Regions from separate parts of the Homo sapiens genome. Here region 1 is linked to region 2. Evidence: fine-mapped expression QTL. A gene starts in region 2. The other region holds a variant in brackets. All regions are shown on one strand. Distances are between the middles of the regions. Region 1 overlaps LINC00529 (long intergenic non-protein coding RNA 529). Region 2 holds the start of MTMR9 (myotubularin related protein 9).

Region 1 (11,457 bases), 42 kb before region 2:
CTTGTGATAACACTTGTGACTTGTATACTTTTCTGTATGTATATTATATTTCAATAAAAAGTTAAAAAGCCACGATAATGAAAAGAAAAGGCAAAATAAGCAGAACCTTGGGCCCTACCCAGGCACACTGAATTCATTCCCTGGGGTAAGAGTCAGGCTGTAGCCGGCCTCCAATGGCTCCCTCTGATCTTTACTTCCTAGTATCCACAATCTTGTGTAGCCATCTCACTCACCAAATAGAGCTGCCCTGTGTAACCAGTAGGATATTGTGGAAACAATGCAATGTGACTTCTGGATCTAGGCCATATATGGCATTTTGGCTTCTATCTTGCTCTCTCTCTCTCTCTGAGGAAAGCCACCATATCATGAGGACACACAAGAAGCTTTATAGAAAGGTCCGCGTGGTGAGGAACTGAGGTCTCCTGCCAACAGCCAGCACCACCTCGCCAGCTATGTGAGAGGCTCCAGCCCCAGTCAAGACTTCAGATAACAGAAGCCCCTACTGACATCTTGACTGCAATCTCATGAGAAATCCCAGTGTCAATACTAACACCACCTAGGAAAACTGCTGCCACACTCTAGACCCACAGCAACGTCGTGATATAATAAAGGTTTGTGATTCAAGCTGCTAAGTTTTGGAGTAATTTGTGAAGCAGTAATACATAAACAATAAGATCAAGACATACATTTTTTTAAAACTCCTAGATTTGGATGTGCAGCTATGCTCGGGAGCCTTTGGCATGGTATTCTGCTCCTATAAGTATAGCAGCTATCATTTTGTGCTATTGATATTCCTTGCTGGTCTTCACTGCTCAGGTGTGTGCTCACTCAGTGAAGGAATGATGTTTTGTTCATCTGGGTACCTTCAGTACTCAGAGAGAACCTGGCACAGAATGAGTGGTCCATCAGTATTTGTTTAATTGGAGTGACCCTTCCAATAAACACAGAGAGTAGGACCTACGACTGCCATCAGCCACCTAAACCATTTCAATGTATCTTTTTCATTCAAATAGTTTATTTTATTTTTATTTATTTATTTTTTGGGGGACAGAGTCTCACTCTGGCACCCAGGAGTACAGGCTGGAATACAGTGGTATGGTCACAGTTCACTGCAATCATGAACTACTCTGGGCTCATGCGATAATCTCATCTCAGCCTCCTGAGTAGCTGGGACTACAGGCATGTGCCATCATGCTTGGCTGATTTTTTTTATTTTTTGTAGAGACAAGGTTTCACTATGTTGCCCAGGCTGGTCTTGAACTCCTTGACCCAAGCTATCCTCCCACCTCAGCCTTCCAAAGTGCTGACATTACACATATGAGCCACTGCACCTGGCCTCAATATATTTTAAAAGAGTCTACTTTGAGCCCAACACTGGGCTCATGCTGGAGTTGCAAAGAAGAGGAATGTCAGCCCTTGTAGCCAGGTACTTGGTCAAGCAGGTGACATCAAGGCGGCAGACATTGGAGACACGCAGGGGCACATGCCAGGGTTTGTCTAGGAGCCTCTGATGAAGTGATCAGTTCAGCTTAGGAGGGCTGAGATGTTTCCAAGAGTAAGCAACGCTTGAGCCATGACCCAAAGAGTGACTGGGGGTGGGCCAGCTGGACAAGGAAGAAAAGGGTATTTGGGGAAGAGAAAAGAACCATGTGCCTCAGCAGAATGACTTGAAATCACATGCAGTATTGGAGTAAAATGGCAGGAGGGTGAGAGATGAGTATGGTGGTAAGGAGGTTGGATGTATTCTGTAGGTAACAGGATCACCGAAGCATGAAGTAGAATTTAACACAACCCAGTTTACAATTTTAGAGAGATACCTCTGTTTGCAGTGTGGATGATGGATTATAAGGAAACACTGAAGATTGCAGGGCCTCTTGGAGAAGGTAAGGACATTGTAATTGTCCAGGCAGGAGAAGGTATGGGCTGGCTAGGCAAAGTCAGGAAAAGGGGGAGGAGGGCACAGGTGTGAATAGGATGCTCCTACAGGCCGAAAATAAAGTTGAAGGACTGGAATCTGAAGCTTCTCCACCTTCTCCAGTAAGAAGGTTGGAGGAAGGAAGGTGAGTATGAGATATATTATCCAGGCAGTGTGTTCTTTTAAAAATTTCCTCCTAAGAACCAGAAAAAGATGGAAAAGCAAAAAGGCGAGGAGGGGTGGGATTCAAGAAGAAACTCAGTACATATGCTAATGTCACTTGGGAACTGTAAGCAGCTCACAATTTCCATCTATTATCATGGGTGAAGATATATTTCCAGCCGAAAAGAATAATTTTTAAAACATGGGTGTGAAATAAATGAGCACATGAAACCGTGTTGTCCAAAAAAAAAACCCCAGCAGAATGTTTTCCTTAGAAAGCAGCCTTTGGGTGACACTGCCAGCAGCCTGCAGCCCTAGCAAGGATCTGTGCTTTTGTCACTCTGTGATTTGCAATGGGAAAGAAGCTCGCTTATCTAAGAAATGCATCTGAAACTCCATGGCTGGCAGGTGCTTAAGAGCACGGAACAGATGTCTGTCGAATGTACCAAAAGTCGTAGATATATATTGGAAAGTACAGATGCACTACATCTTTGCTACCGTAGTAGAGAAAATATCTCAGATATGCACCAAGGGGCTTCATGCATTGACCTTGCTGACTTCTCTTCTACAGGACTTGGAGCCCGCGATGGGAGCTACTTAGAGACCTGTGTTCACTGGCATTCTGAAGGACCTTGCTGACCCCATCTCCAAGCAAGACTGGAGCCAGCTAACCAAAGATTTCGGTATGGTGTCTGAGGTTCTCTCCAGTCTCATGAGCCTTGCATTTGCTGGTGTTAATGCTGCATCCCGAGTCCCCCTTTTCTCACCTGCCTCCCTCTCACAAGTTTTGGAGCACTAACCTGTTGCCTCTCAGGCTCCACTGCTGTCTAGTCCACCAGTCTTACTGACAAGGCCCCAGTGTACTTTTTTTGGCTGCCTGGCATCCCTTAGACACCTCTCCAGGTTGACTCTCCTCAGTCCTGGAATCCACTCACTCCCCTTTCTCTTTTGGCAGAGAGATGATGTCTTAGTCCATTTGGGCTGCTATAATGAAACAGCACAGTCTGGGTGGCTTATCAACAAGAGAAATTTCTTTCTCACAGTTGTGGAGGCTGGAAGTCCAAGTTCAAGATATCAGCAGAGTTGGGTTCTCCCGAGACCTCTCTCCTTGGCTTGCAGATGGCTGTCTTCTTTTTTGTCCCCACACAGTCATCCCTCTGTGCATGGCTGTATCGTAATCTCTTTTTTTTTTGAGACAGAGTCTCGCTCTGTTGCCCAGGCTGGAGTGCAGTGGCACGATCTCAGCTCACTGCAAGCCCTGCCTCCTGGGTTCATGCCATTCTCCTGCCTCAGCCTCCCCAGTAGCTGGGACTACAGGTGCCTGCCACCATGCCCAGCTAATTTTTTTTTTGTATTTTTAGCAGAGATGGGGTTTCACTGTGTTAGCCAGGATGGTCTCGATCTCCTGACCTTATGATCAGCCCACCTCAGCCTCCCAAAGTGCTGGGATGACAGGTGTGAGCCACGACACCCGGCCCGTAGTCTGTTTTTATAAGGACACCAGTCATATTAGATGAGGGCCCATCCCAATAACCTCATTTAAACTAAATTACCCTTTAAAACCCCTATTTCCAAATACAGGCCCATTCTGAGTTACTGGGGGTCAAGGCTTCAACATAGGAATTTGGGGAGACACCATGCAGCCCATAACATGAGCTATTGTGTTAGACTCCTAACTTCTCTCTGTGCCTTTTTCCTCACCCTCTGGTCCAGCTGCATGGTACTTCTACCACAATCTTCCTCGAACACACGTCTGAGCATGCTGCTTTCCTGCTCAGCATCCCACACAAATGTTCGTGACTCCCTGGCTTGGTAACAAGGACCCCCATATTCCACTCCAAGCAGCTTCTGCTGGAGCTCTGACTCCCACCAGCTCTGCCTCAGAGCTCTTCCCCCATCTTGGCCACTTCCTCTATGTACCTTCTCCACATGATGATGTGAATGGAGCTTGGATGACCTGCTCTTCACACACTTCCTCTAAGGTACAAAGTGGGCAACAGCTTTCCACAGGAAAACACCATGGCATGAGATGTTGACTTGAGCAGCAAAAGACCATGGAGAAAATTGTGAGAAACCTGCCTGGGAAGCCAAAGGGCTACTTGCACTTTGTTAAGTCCTTCTCTCCATTTTGTCTTCTTCAGAACTTGCCTTTTGCTCCTCCTCCCTCAAGCAGATGGTTGAAGATATATGATCACATTTTTAAGTTGAGTGTGAATGGGATTGAATTCACTCACAGCTATTTGGGGCCTTATTGCAGGAAGTCAGGGACCCCGAACGGAGGGACTGGCTGGAGCCGTGGCAGAGGAATATAAATTGTGACAATTTCATGGACATTTATCAGTTCCCAAATAATACTTTTATAATTTCTTATGCCTGTCTTTACTTGTGTCTTAATCCTGTTACCTTCATAAACTGAGGATGTACGTCACCTCAGGACCACTGTGATAATTGTGTTAACTGTACAAATTGATTGTAAAACATGTGTGTTTGAACAATATGAAATCAGTGCACCTTGCAAAAGGACAGAATAACCACGATTTTTAGGGAACAAGGGAAGACAACTATAAGGTCTGACTGCCTGCAGGGCTGGGCAAAAAGAGCCATATTTTTCTTCTTGCAGACAGCCTATAAATGGATGTGCAAGTAGGAGAGATATCGCTAAATTCTTTTCCTAGCAAGGAATATTAATATTAATACCCTGGGGAAGGAATGCATTCCTGGGGAGAGGTCTGTAAAAGGCCACTCTGGGAATGTCTGTCTTATGTGGTTGAGATAAGGACTGAGATATGCCCTGGTCTCCTGCAGTACCCAAAGGCTTACTAGGGTGGGGAAAAATTCCATCCTGGTAAATTTGTGGTCAGACCGGTTCTCTGCTCTTGAACCCTGTTTTCTGTTGTTTAAGATGTTTATCAAGACAATACGTGCACCGCTGAACATAAACCTTTATCAGTAGTCCTGCTTTTGCCGTTTTGTCCTGTTCCCTCAGAAGCATGTGATCTTTGTTCTGCTTTTTGCCCTTTGAAGCATGTGATCTTTGTACCTACTCTCTGTTATGACACCCCCTCCCTCCCCTTTTGAAACCCTTAATAAAAAACTTGCTGGTTTGAGGCTCAGGTGGGCATCACGGTCCTACCGATACGTGATGTCTCCCCTGGCGGCCCAGCTGTAAAATTCCTCTTTGTACTCTTTCTCTTTATTTCTCAGCTGGCCAACACTTATGGAAAATAGAAATAACTTACATTGAAATATTGGGAGTGAGTTCCCCAGATAGGGGCTTCCATGGACTGAATTGGGTCCCCTCCCAAATTCATATGTTGAAACACTAACCTCTAATGTGACTGTGTTTGGAGATAGAACGTTTAGAGTAGTGATTTAAGGTTTAAAAAGAGTGAGGCGCTAATCTGATGGGGCTGGTGTCCTTACCAGAAGAGTAAAAGATATGAGAGGGCTCTCTCTCCACTTACCCACAAAGGAAAGGCCATGTGAGGATGGCGCAAGAAGGTGGCTGTCTGTAAGCCAGAAAGAGAGCCCTCACCAGGAGCCAAATCTGCTGGCACC[T/C]TAATGTGGAACTTCCAGGCTCCAGAGCTGTGAGAAAATACATTTCTGTTAAGTTATACAGTCTATAGCATTTTGTTATGGCAGCCTCAGCAGACGAACACAGGGGCTTTCCCAAAAGGAGTTGCATGTTTTGCCTGGTTTTGCTGATAGTGAGACCTGCATGGCTCATTCATCAGCAACTCTTCCTTTGTATGAGCATCCTGGCTTGGACTCCTGATGTCTGTCCCTCCAGAGGTGGATGTAGAGTGATCCCTTAAGGAGGCCATTATCACTGACCAGTGACAGAGAGAGGAACAAGCCCCTTTCCTTCCTGACCCATGAGACTGGTGTTGGTTAGGAAATATCAAGAGCTGGGAAAGGTTTGAGATTTCACCCTACTTGCAGTCTAACAAGTTAGCCTGCCACACTTTCAAGGTTGCTGGCAGAAGACACAACAGAGGCAGAGACAAAGGACTTCATTACTCATAGCAATAGCAGTAACCAAGTGTCAGCATTTGTGTTCATCTCCCCAGTCCCAATTCCTGCAGGCTAATGTGACAAGAGCCAGGTGTTATCTCCAGAGGCAGTGGGTGACTTTCCTAGAGAAGAAGCTCAAGCTTTGGAAGCCCAAGCCTTTTATATTGGGCAGTAAGCTTGTATGAACTTTGCTCTGGAGGGAGACGAAATCTTTATCATTTTAGACAGTAAACAAGCCTGCCCTTTGCTGCTGATGGAAACCCTATTGCTCTCTTACAAGGCTGCTTGCCATACAAGTACCCTGGTGGTGTATCTAGTGAGATGTGTATGCTAGTGCCTCTGCTTCTCTGATTGAACTCTGATCGACACTGGCCCCTAATCCGTTTCAATAAGCTATGCTATTTATTATCCCTAGGAAATATTCCTTCTAGATAATGGAAATGGTCCTGGGACCTACACTTAAACATAAATATCTGGTGTCCTGGAACTTGACAATATGTCTATTGTGAAATGTAGGTTTCAACATGATTCAGAAGGCAACTGCCATTGAAAAGATAGTTTGTTACTCACAGTTCCCAAGAGAAGGGGCAAGGCATGCCACACCACGTGATGGTGGGAGTGGGGGACACATGGAGAAGCACTGGGGTTGACCAGGAGGCAAAGGTAGAGAGGAGAAGTGTGGGTAATAGCCTTTACTGTGACTTCTGCAGGAAAGAATAGGTGAGGCAGGTGAGCAGGCTCAGGATTGGCTAGTGTGAATCCTTTCAGTGGGCTCTGGGGCATAAAGGCTGCTCCTAGTTGCCTGGAACGTAGCCTTGCAGTGATGGTGGCCCAGAGTGCAGGAGCCCCACAAAGGAGGTGGTTGGGAGGTGGGGTCTGGGTGGCTTGGTTCGCATGTCAAAGGCATGCTCACAGAAGAGCTCTTTGCTTCCACTAAGAATTGGCTAACCCTGGGTGGGGCAGTCCCTCCAGCATCAACAAGTCCCCAATATGGCCAAGCCTCAGAATAAAAAGGCTTGCTTAATACGACATCACACAAAAACTACACCTCACTGTGAAGACCTAACTCCAGAAGAATGTGGAAAACTAACCAAACACCTTGCCTGACATCATCACTCAGCCTTCTGCCCTCTCGGTTAATCCAAGGTAGCTGGGCAGCATATCAGCTAAGGCACTTCCAGAGTTTAAAAGCATCTCACTACATAGCTGGTCAGTCAGTCAGCAAGTGTCCCGAGTGGGTGCTGTGAGTGAGGCATGGTAGGGGGTGCTGGGGAGATGGGGGGAACCAAACACACCTGGCCCTGCCTGATGGCACTTAGGATCAAGCTGAGCCCATAACCCCTGCCCCCAACCTGAGCAACATTCACTTGTCTTCTCAAATAAAGGGAGCATTTCTTTGGGGGAACATGTGGGCCTGAAGACACAGCACATCTCTGCCCACGAGGCAGCCTGGGGAGGAGGGAAGACTCTGCCTTCTGGAACTTCTTGTTCCTGTCAGAGGCATCTCCAGAGTTTTCTCAGCAGCCTGTGTGCATCTTCCATCAGGAAGACCCAGATGTCGTTTCTTGGTCACATTGGAGAAACTGTGTCTGCAGGTGGCTCAGCTCATCTCTGTGATGCTCTGCTCTGATCTTTTGGAAAAGTTGTTAAAGTGTTTTTGTAGCTTGGAAGGGCATCTAATTTGGGGATTCGCCTCTGCTCTTAGTCTGTCACTCGCTTTCTATCACATTCTCTGGAGGTAGGGCAGAGACTGTTTTAAGCAATGCTCTCTCTTCCGTTGGGCAAGGAGCCAGAATGACTTGCAGCTGTTGACTGACACGTGCTGCCCAAGAAAGTGTAGGACACTCCTAATTATGCAAATATGAACTTCTCATAAAATAGACGTCAAAGCCCTAGTTTTTAAATCTTGTTGCAGTAAAATGTCTTAATTTGGGTTTCTGGAAACTACTACGATCATCTTAGGAGATGTATAAGTACACGTATATAAGACATTAAAATCACAAGATCGTTGTAGATCATTTGCCCATCTGCCTTGGTTCTGTAATTGAGAAAGCATAGTTCCTGGAGTCTGGCCTAAGCATGAAAACATGTCACAATGACTCTAGGTTAGCAACAGTCTGCAAAGTGCTTACTTCTGGGGGCGAATTTCAAATTAAGTTATTGTAACACCTTGCAGTTCACCTAAGCATTAGGTCAGAGGCTGGTGTTTGGGAGAGTGCCTCCAGAATTGTCTGGAGTGCGTCTAGAAATCCCATTCTAGGGCTCTGCTTTCAGAGATTCCGATAGGATGGGTCTGGCGTGGGCTCGGGAGGGTATTTTTCAAAAGTTGCCCAGGTCCCTGTGATGAAAAACCTGGTTTGGGAACCATCGGTTTAATCTGAGAGTTTTGCTTTTTGAATATGGTCTCCATCCCAGAAGCTTCAGCACCTCCTGGGGACTTGTAGACACACCAAGCCTGCATCTTCACAGAGTCCCCAGTGGATTCTCAAGCCCGTGGAAACTTGAGAAGTACTGGCTGAGGGCATCCACAGGCCCAGGTGAAGTACATGGGAGAGAATGACGATCTCACTGCTAGTTAATCAGGAAAGCCTTTATGGAGAAGTTGGGATCTTCAGCGGATAGAAAAAGCAGAAAACAAACCACCGCCCCTATTTGACTGATGAAGAAGCACAAGAGGTAATGGAGAGGCAGAAGGATTTAGGGAATGAATGAAGAGTGTGCTGACTCAGTTGAACGAAAACATGGAACACAAACTCTATGTCATTGGCATGTTGCAGCTCATGCCTATAATCCCAGCACTTTGGGAGGCCAAGGTGGGCGGATCACTTGAGCCCAGGAGTTTGAGACCAGACTGGGCAAGATGGCGAAATCCCATCTCCTAAAAATATGAAAGCTAGCTGGGTGTGCTGATGCATACCTGTAGTCCCAGCTACTCAGGAGGCTGAGGTGGGAGGATCACTTGAACCCAGGAGGTCGAGGCTGCAATAAGCTGAAATTACAACACTGCACTCCAGCCTGGGTGACAGAACAAGACCCTGTCTCAAAAATTAAAAGAAAAAAATGTAAATCAATCAGAAGTTGAAGTAAAAGTAAGTTATAATACAGTAATATGTATTTCGGTATGTGAATACTTGGGCAGTATATTAACCATGTCTTTTACTTTCTGAATTCTCATGCTTTGACACTTGGGCCTTGTGATATGGTTTGGCTCTGTATCCCCACTAAGTCTCATGTCAAATTGTAATCCCCACATGTTTGGGTAGGAACCTGATGGGAGGTGATTGGATCGTGGGGGTGGGTTTCCCCCTTGCTGTTCTCACCATAGTGAGTTCTCACAAGATCTGATGGTTTAAAAGACTTGTTTGCTTCCCCTTCACCTTCCACCATGATTATAAGTTTCCTGAGGCCTCCTACCCACGCTTCCTGTTAAGTCTGCAGAACTGTGAGTCAATTAAACCTGTTTTCTTCGTAAATTACCAGTCTCAGGTAGTTCTTTATAGCAGTGTGAGAATGGATGAACACACGTTGCTTACCCCAAAGGGGCTGCTGTTACGACATGGGATGTGGCAGTAATAATGACACATCACAGCAAATGTGTCTCTGAACTTGAAATCCCACCACAAGTTGAAGCCTGCCTTCTGTCTCAGCATGTCCGGTAGGATGATGGAAAGTCTTACCAGTCCTGGGTCAATTTCTCCTTGTGTGACCTGTCCTGAGCATTGCAGGATATCCAGTGTCCTCCCGACTAAACATCACTAGTGCCCTCCAATCATCATGGCAACCAAAACTTCCTTCAAAGATTTTCAAGAGATCCATGATGACAAACCACTAAATTGGATAACTCCCAAAGCACTCCCAGAACGAGCTCACTTCGATTCTAAGATCTCTGGGGTGTCACAGGTAAAGGAGATTGCCAATGAGATTTAAAGTCTGGGAGTTACTATCGCAGGCCATTGCCGTGACCTGACCAGAACATAAGACACAAAGGAACATGAATCTAAGAAGGAAATATGGCAAACCAAGCCAAGGCATTTACTTTTGAGGGCAAATCACAAGCTTTAAGGGAAAAATAAAAAAAAAATTACTTTTAGATCTTACAATCAGAATTGTGCAAGTAACTATAATTCTGGAAGTATGGTTCAGGGTGGGCACTCCTCGAGCCCCCAGGCTCTGAGGTGTGGAGCTGGTAGTGTGTCCATGGGGGTCAGGAGCTTGAAATATTGTGCTACATATGCCAAGTATGCTCACTCCATATGTCTCTGGAGAGAGGAAAGACAAGCAGCTCCACCCCTTGCTGTGTGGCTGTGGTCAATTTACTTGACCTCTCTGAGCTTATTCTATAATTAGTAACGCTGACCTCATATTCCTAATGTATAGGTAGTTGTAAGGATTAGATATTGCACACAAAGGACTTAGCTCAGTGCATGGTACTTAATAAAGGATGAATAAGCTATATGATAAACTATTCATTTTTTATACAGTATCGGATCATTCTCTTTTCAAATTTTCCACTAGAGGGTGCCAAACACTAGCCTGAAACTTGGAAAAACTGTTGTCCAGACTCCCCCTGCCCCAAACACCCAATTTGTAAAACATGCTCTCAAGATCCTAAGCACTGGTGTCAGCAAAAAGACTTGGCAGACTCTCCATTTGCTTTCCTCTTCACCCCTGAGAGGTCCTACACCTAAAATAAAGACGCTCAACTTCAAGACTGTTAGTTTTAATTAAACACTTCTTACAGGTGCATAGATAGTGTTAACTGTGATGTTGCCATGGCTTTAAATCAGCTGCATACACAAGACAGAGCTGCAGGGGCCGCCTGCCCCTGAGGCAGGCAATGAGGGATGTTTGTAGAGAATTTAAACACAATAACACAGCTGACTAAAAGTCAGTTCGCTTGTGATATCACCAAGTGCTAGCAACTCTAAATAACATCAGTGATAAAATACTGTTCTGCAAAAAAAAAAAAAAATCTTTTGTTGTTCAAAGTTCCAAATAATCTCTGCAGACATGATGGCATCTTAGCAATATGTATGTAAGCTTCAATTTGATACATTTCTTACTTACCATTAATAATTTTAATATATCTGGAAGTTAATTCAGAGAACTCCATGTGGTACAGAAGCGTCTTCCTAGTGGACTCAGCCACATACATTTTGTTGTTATCTGTTCACACACAGCGCCAGCCCGGAGTTTGCACCTTGAGCGACAACTGTCTCCAACCCCTACATCTAAATAGTAAATTCAAAACAAACCATAATAACTGTGATTGTAATGATGAAAGGAGTAGACCTTGGGTTATCTTACTTTTGTCATTTTATGTGATAAAAAATTTTAAATTTGTATTTAAACTTTAAAACCAAAAC
Region 2 (8,000 bases):
CTCTGTTGGTTCTTGTTTTTAGACTGGACTCTCAGGTGCAACAATATTATTGTTACTGGTGGAGAGTACTGACTACAAATCACCCAGGTTCTTGGCATTTTGAACAAAGAATTGGACAAAATTCACAAACAAAGCAACAAAAAAGTGAAGCGACAAAAGCATAGATTTACTGAAACAAAAGTACACTCCACAGAGCGGGAGCGGGCTCAAGCAAGTGGCTCAAGAGCGCTGGTTACAGAATTTTCTGGGGCTTAATTTTTTTATTTTTTTGAGGCGGAGTCTTGTTCTGTCACCCAGGCTGGAGTGCGGTGGCACATTCTTGGCTCACTGCAACCTACACCTCCCAGGTTCAAGCAATTCTCCTGCTTCAGCCTCCCCAATAGCTGGGATTACAGGCCCACACCACACCTGGCTAATTTTTGTAATTTTAGTAGAGATAGGGTTTCACCATGTCGGTTGGCCAGGCTAGTCTGGAACTCCTAACCTTGTGATCCACCCTCCTCAGCCTCCCAAAGTGGTGGGATTACAGGTGTGAGCCATCGTGCAGCATGGGGTTTAAATAGCCTCTAGAGGTTTCCCATTGGTTACTTGGTTACACCCTATGTAAATGAAGGAGTGGCCCGTCACAAGTCTGACTGATCATGGGAGGTGACCAATCAGAGTCTGAAGTGACGGTAGTTACAAAGTTACACATGAAGACTTGGCCTGCAACCAGTCTGAATGGTTGTGGGAGGGGACCAATCAGAGGTACTTTCCATTTTTCATTTGCAGTGCAGTGCAAAGGGAGTAGCCTCTGATCCTTTCGTTACATTCGTGTGAAGAGGTGGGGTTTCCCCTCTGATTCAGTTCTAGGAAGTCAGTGAGAATTGGCCTTAGGTTCCCTGCCTCTAGACCCTATTCTCCTGTCTCATTTTCCCGCTGTGAGACATGATCCCCATAAATCTTTATGGGAGGCAGAGGGACCAATGGTCTTTCTTCTGTAACTGCTTCATGCTGACTTGGGGTGCGGTGCCTACCTATTTGGGATCACAGAACTCTCACTCTGCTCTGTCTAGTGGATACAGGGTAGCTTCTTGATGGCCAGTAGTGGTGTCTTCACCTGAACTGGCTGGAAACCTTGTTGCATGATCATCTGAAGCTTGATGGTCTCTAGGCGAGAGGAAATTAATTTGGTTAATGTATTTAATAAATATGGTCCAAAAACCAAGGCAAGTATAATTAACAACGAGCCAGTCAGAGGAAGGACTCATGAACCCCTAATTAGCATTTTTGAACAGGAGGACCACGACTTGGACAGCTGTTGTCGTATCTTAGAAGCCTGGTCAGCTAATTTCTGGGTGGCATCCCTTACTAATTCTAATTGGTTGACATAAAAACAGCATTCTTCCTCTAGAAAAAGACATAAGCCACCTTTTCCAGCAGTTAGGAGATCCAGTCCCCTTCTATTTTGTAAAGCAACTGCTGCCAAGGAGTCTGTTTGAGTTTGTGTTGTGACGATACTTTGGGCAATGTCATCCAAGCTTTCCACAAAATCCTTGGAAAGTGCTGGTAACAGTATAGGGAAGTTGCAAGCCCGGTAACTCCCGTTCCTGCTCTCACTGTTATTCCTAGCCCAACAAAAAGGCGTTTGAGTTGGATTGCTCATTTGTGTCTGGCGGTTGCAGTTAAAGGTATAATGAGGGATTGGTTGTTGAGAGCTCTCCCTCTCTCTCTCTAAATATATATATATATATACACATATATATATAGTTTGTTTGTTTTGAGACAGTCTCCCTCTGTCACCCAGGCTGGAGCACAGTGGCTCAGTCTTGGCTCACTGCAACCTCTGTCTCCAGGGTTCAAGTGATTCTCCTGTCTCAGTCTCCAGAGTAGCTGGGATTACAGGTGTGCGCCACCATACCCGGCTAATTTTTTGTATTTTTAGTAGAAACAGGGTTTCAGCATGTTGGCCAGGCTGGTCTCGAACTCCTGACCTCAGGTGATCCGCCTGCCTCGGCCTCCCAAAGTGCTGGGATTATAGGCGTGAGAAACTGCGCCCGGCCGGGAGCTATATTGATTTCGGAGGCTAAAAACCAAGTGTACAGGTTCCAGTCCAATTGGCTGGTAAACACAGTAGGAACTGGTGCTGCACAGGGAAAAGGTTCCTTGTTTTTCAAGACAAAAATTGTTTTCCATGGTGAACATGTGGGTTAGCTTGTTGTTTTCACTTTCCCAAGTGGTTAAGTTTCCTACTAAAGTGGCCAAGCGAAAATGTCAACCCAGCTAGTGGGCCCACCTTCACAGTACTTAGACTGTGCATCCTTTAAAGTGCCCTTAACTAGGGATGGTTTCCATGAAAAGCATACAGGTTTTCTAAACGATGCAGTTTGGTTAATTGCATAGCTTACATGATTGTGTGAGGGTTAATTTCTGGGGTGTGGTTGCATTGAAGACTTCAAGTTCCCACGACCTGAACAGAATTTTGGCTTCTTTCAATACAAAGTGGCATCTGGAATTTTAGCTCTGTGTATGTTGATGTTGGGCCCCTAATGGGTTTCTGTGGGAATGCACCCTCAAAAAGGTTGCTCTGATTGGACTGGAGAGGGTTTACTGCTCATCCTGTCATTTTAACCTTTGTCATTTCCATACTTTTGAAGTCTTATAAGTCATCCAGATTCATTAATTCAAAGGGAGTTCCTCCCTGGTAGTTGGAATGATAGGTCATTTTTTTCAAGGACCCAAGATCGGGCTGGGATAGGGATGGCAGTGTATCTGGATGAAGATAGGAGATAAACAAAGCCAACAGTCCTTTGCCAGAGCTGAGCTGGTGGTATTTAACAGTCTTTGCATTAAATTTAAAGTTCTTAATAAATACCCAGAATCTATTAATTGCCAGAGGGGTAAAGTGAAGCTCTGTTGTAAAATAAAGCTGATTCCCTGTATGCGGTGTCCCTGTGTATACTGGGTGTATACTGGGTGTCCATTATGGAACAAAAAAAAAATACTTATTTGCTATTTTGTTCTATAGAATGGGAACTTCAGGGGGTGGATACCTGTGCTGTCAGGAATGCTAGTTATAAAAATGAATTAAAACACTTCATATATTACAAAGGAAGTGATTCCATCTATTTGGACGAAAGCAATTAAACTGCAAAAATATAAAAAATGGCAACTATTATTCAGTCTACAGTAACTATGCAACAAAGACACCAAGGAAAGTTGGTAGGCATTTACGTATCTCACTTAAAACAAGTCTATAAAGTGGTTTATTTTAAGAAGGGTACATTTTAAGAAGGACAAAATCAAAAGCATGGACAAGTGTTGGATGAGCTGATGAGGTTGTGGCAATTTACTTTGTGAATACTGTGAGAGTTTGTCCAACTCGCTGTGCTTAGGTACTAGATGGTGAGGATTTAAAAGGTCAATGAAGTCACAGCAGACCAGCACTCAAACATATTTCTCTTCTATTTCCTACTTTTGAATAAAAATGTCAGAAGTGGGCGGTGGGAAAGGAACAAGCAAAGGAGTAATTATTTGAATAAATTTTTGGCGAAACGTGGGTGTCTGACGGGGAGGCTGTGCGGTGGTGACCAACGCACCCATGCGCTGGGTTTCACAGATGCAGACTGAAGTCCAGGCTCTGCTGCAGATTAACGGGGTGGCCGCCAGCAAGTCAAGTGACTTGCTCTTCTGTGCACTGCATGTACTTGGGTTCCTCTCACAGGTATTCCTGTTTTTCCTCTTTCTTGCTCCAGGTTACACCTCGTGGCGCGGCGCTCTCGGAGAGCCTGTGGAGTGGCCCTGTGTCCCTCCCTGACCCCTGGAGGATTCCGTAAGGTCACAGTCACCGCCTCCATCCCCTACTTGCCATGTCTTCAGGGCTAATGCATAACAATTATCACAATTTACAGCAGCCCCACGCTCTGAAGAGCTTCTGGAGGGGATACTACTCAAGCGGAGGAAGGCAAGACAGGGACCTCCTCCCTCTTCCCGGACCTCTTCTGATAAGGAATATTTGTAGGTGGTTAAGAAAGGCAGCGGGAGGGCGTGAAGGCAAAGACAAGCTTTTTTTCTCGTAGGAACACACATCTTCTGGTCTGGCTGTGTTTCCGGAGGCATTTCCAGAGGACCTAGCGAGGACCAACTTCCGGCTGCGACTTCCGCGTCTTCCGAGTTTCGAGACCTGCTGCTTCCGCCCGGAGTTGTTGTGGGCTCCAGCAGCGAGTAGCCACTTCCGCTAGGAGTCCCTAGCGGCCAGGGCGTGGAAGCGGATTCTGAGGCGGCTTTCTCCTACTGCCCTCCGCTTGCCAACGCGGGACCCGGAGCCCAACGGCAGCGGCGGTCCTTGGGCCTGTGGAGAGGGGTTCTCTGTGGCCGAGTCCTAGGCCTGGTGAACCGCGCGGTGCGGGAGAGGCGCTTGGGCCTCGTCCAGCCCCAGCCCCTGTCTCCCCGCGGCCGGTGCCGGCGGCTGTAGGCCTCGCCGCGCCCACCCAGCCTGGGGCGGGCCCAGCCTCACCGCCCGGCCCGCCCCGCCCCACGGGCCAGCCCCGCGCCGGGTGTTTCCGCTACTTCCCTGCGGCGGGGTAACCGCCTCGCACCTACCGGGCTCGGTTCCCTGGCTCCGGCCGCGGGGGAGCATGGAGTTTGCGGAGCTGATTAAGACCCCGCGGGTGGACAATGTGGTGCTGCACCGGCCTTTCTACCCGGCTGTCGAGGGCACCCTGTGCCTGACGGGCCACCACTTGATCCTGTCCTCCCGGCAGGACAATACGGAGGAGCTGTGGCTCCTCCATTCAAACATCGACGCCATCGACAAGCGGTGAGTGCCCGCCCCACCCCAGCTCCGCAGGGAGCCGGGGGTCCCTTGTGGGCGCCCCGGGAAATACTTCCTGGCGTTTTCCGCGCAGCCTGCCGCCCAGCTAGCCGGCAAGATGAGCCCTCTGTGGCCTAGAATCAGGATTTACCAAGCTGAAACCCGTCCAGATGGAGGACCCGGTTTCCATTAAACCTGGATGGAGTTCTCAGGGTTATCGTGTGGCTGGTACCATCCTGATGATCATTTCTGGTTCGTAACACCATTTGGGTGGATTTTCGGCATTGTCTTTATAAATTTCTTCTTCTTCTTGCCCCATCGTATTCCTTGAATTGGTATTGTCAGTCACCGTTCATGAAGTGATTGGATGTGATTTAGGTAAAGTCTTTACCATTTCTGAGGAAAACTAAACAGATTATAAAGTTATGAGTGTCTACATGCTACAGAACCATTTTTTTAATTTCTGAAAAATGTTCAGTGTATCATATTATTTCTTACCTTCTGGGTCATCAAAATTTAATTCTCACTAAGGGAGATTCTGATGTCTTCTCTTCATCTTTACTCAATTCTGCTTGCTGAAAGAACAGGGTTGGCTCTCAAGGAAAGGCATGGACCAGTTAACCTCTTTTTTCTTTTTGTACTCCAGACTTTATCTTTCCAAGGCAGTGCCTCGAAGTCAAAAAGTTAAACTTTCATCTGCATTCAAAATTCCCATCTCCTTAGTGGCTACTCGCTAGCCAGGAGAGGGCAAACTGATTATCCGTTTTACACAGAAGTATAAATGAATGACGACAACATTTTCTATTGCCTCACAGGATAATTTGGATATTAGGAAGATTCGTACAGAGGATATGCCTTAAAATAATAATCTCTTTCTTTCTTTCTTTTTTTTTTTTTTTTTTTTTTGGAGACGAAATCTCACTGTATTGCCCAGGCTGGAGTGCGGTGGCCAATCTCGGCTCACTGTAACCTCCACCTCCCAGGTTCTAGCGATTCTTCTGTCTCAGCCTCCCGAGTAGCTGGGATTACAGGCACGCGCCACCACACCCGGCTAATTTTTGTATTTTTTAGTAGAGATGGGGTTTCACCATATTGACCAGGCTGGTCTTGAACTCCTGACCTCGCAATCCTCCCGCCTAGGCCTCCCACAGTTCTGGGATTACAGGCGTGAGCCACTGCGCCTGGCCTAAAATAAAAATTTCTAATGGTAGAATTGCAGGCAGTTTGGGTGAAGCCATGGTAGATTGATTGATTGATATGAGCAGGGGGCTCTTATTAGTCTCCTCAAGCCACCTTTTGCTGTATAAAGTCTTCAGTGGGCCCGGCACGGTGGCTCACGCCTGTAATCCCAGCACTTTGGGAGGCCAAGGTGAGCGGATCACCTGAGGTTAGGAGTTTGAGACCAGCCTGACCAACATGATGAAAGCCCGTCTCTACTAAAAATACAAAAAATTAACCGGGCATAGTGGCAGGTGCCTGTAATCCCAGTTACTCAGGAGGCTGAGGCGGAAAAATCGCTTGAACCTTGGAAGCAGAGGTTGCAGTGAGCCGAGATCGGGCCACTGCACTCCTTCCTTTGCAACAAGAGCAAAACTCCATCTCAAAAAAAAAAAAAAAAAAAAAAAAAGTCTTCAGTGGTCTCTCATTGAAAATCTAAACCCCTCAGTCATTCATGGCATTCTGTGTCTCGGCCCTATCCTACTTTCTCACTTTATTTCTTGCCATTTCTTTTAACGAGCCTTTCTTGCACTTGCTTTCATGAACGCTTTTTACCAGCCAGTCCTCACTATTTACTGGTGCTGGTATATGTCCTGTATTCTGTCATCTGTGTATTTTATTGACTTCTTCCTTCTGCTGGAATGCCTTGCCTCTCCCAAGTTTGTTTAACATTTGCCAAATGCCTTTATGTTCTGGACGTTTTGTTAGGCATTTAAGACACCAAGGTAAATAAAATATGTTACAGTTCTTGTCTTTCAGGAGTTCACAGGCAATGAGCCTGTTACCTGTCTATGAGTATTCAGTTTAACCATTTCGACCGCTACCTCCTTCACAAATTCTTCTGTTAATTCCACAACTGGAATTCATTTTTATCTCCTTCGAAACGTCTAACTGTGGCTTGGGCATATAGACGCGTAGGAAACAAAAGAAGGATTGACCGCTGAATGGTCAGATGCCGTTGAATACAACTGAGTAGTTTCTCCATGACCATCAACTACCTTTCCTTTCTTATTTACCTTTTATGGTGGTTACTTTGCGCTCATTTGTTTCCTCCTTTTTACCTTGCATTTACAAGGTGCTGGGCTTTGTAGTACATGAAGAAGAAGCAGATGAGCCATGGACCTTTGAATCTGTTAGGAGAGAATGACGAACTGTACACACATTTATCCTTTTCCTGGGAAGCAGCGTGGTGTAGTGAAAGAGCATAGGGGAGGCATCAGATCAGAGTTTGTTAAATTGCTGCTTTCAAGAAATCTTTACATCCACCTGTTTTCCACGTGCATTGTCTGAGCTGTGCGGCTGCAGTGGTGACTAAGACAAGATGCTTAGGTACTGGCCAGGGAGATGGACAATCAAGCAAGTCCAGAAATAAATATATATATTTATTAGATATATTTATATTTATTATGTTTATTATATATTATATATATTATAATATATATTATATATTATATATTATTTTCTTATATATTTATTATTTATTTATTATATATTTATTATATATTATATATAATACATATTATATAATACATATAATATATAATATATAACATTATATATTTTATTATATATGTTATATATTATATTATAATATATAACATATATAATACGTATTATATATAACATAATATGTATTATATATTATATAATATGTGTTATATATCATACGTATTATATACTATGTATTATATATGTATTATATAATATATATTACATATAATACATAGTATATAATACGTATGATATATAATATATATTATATAATACGTATTATATAATATATATTATATTTCACCTATATAATATATATAATTATTCACCTAATTATATTAAATAATTATTCACCTAAATATTCACCTAATTATTCAGCGAATAGGTGAATAATTATTTATTCACCTATTCACCTAATACATGTAATTATTATATATAATATATTAATAATTATAATATATAATAATAATAATTATATTATAATAATTATATATTATAA

Evidence for each region.
Region 1: its variant is fine-mapped to the expression of MTMR9 in whole blood (INTERVAL, PIP 0.98).

What each region holds. Positions count from the first base shown.
Region 1 is chr8:11,236,468-11,247,924 of GRCh38, forward strand. It overlaps LINC00529 (long intergenic non-protein coding RNA 529), which reads right to left. Exons shown (of 5, transcript NR_170283.1): 5 at 10,797-11,322. Among named protein-coding and RNA genes, the nearest start is that of XKR6, 40 kb to the left of the region's middle. The variant T/C (reference allele first, on the strand shown) is at 5,636.
Region 2 is chr8:11,280,273-11,288,272 of GRCh38, forward strand. It overlaps MTMR9 (myotubularin related protein 9), which reads left to right and starts at 4,544. Exons shown (of 10, transcript NM_015458.4): 1 at 4,544-4,798. The coding sequence starts at 4,617. LINC00529 (long intergenic non-protein coding RNA 529) reads right to left here and starts at 3,759. Exons shown (of 5, transcript NR_170283.1): 1 at 3,579-3,759; 2 at 1,017-1,149. RefSeq lists silencers at 681-730, 4,223-4,632 and enhancers at 3,513-3,602, 3,693-3,752, 4,028-4,529.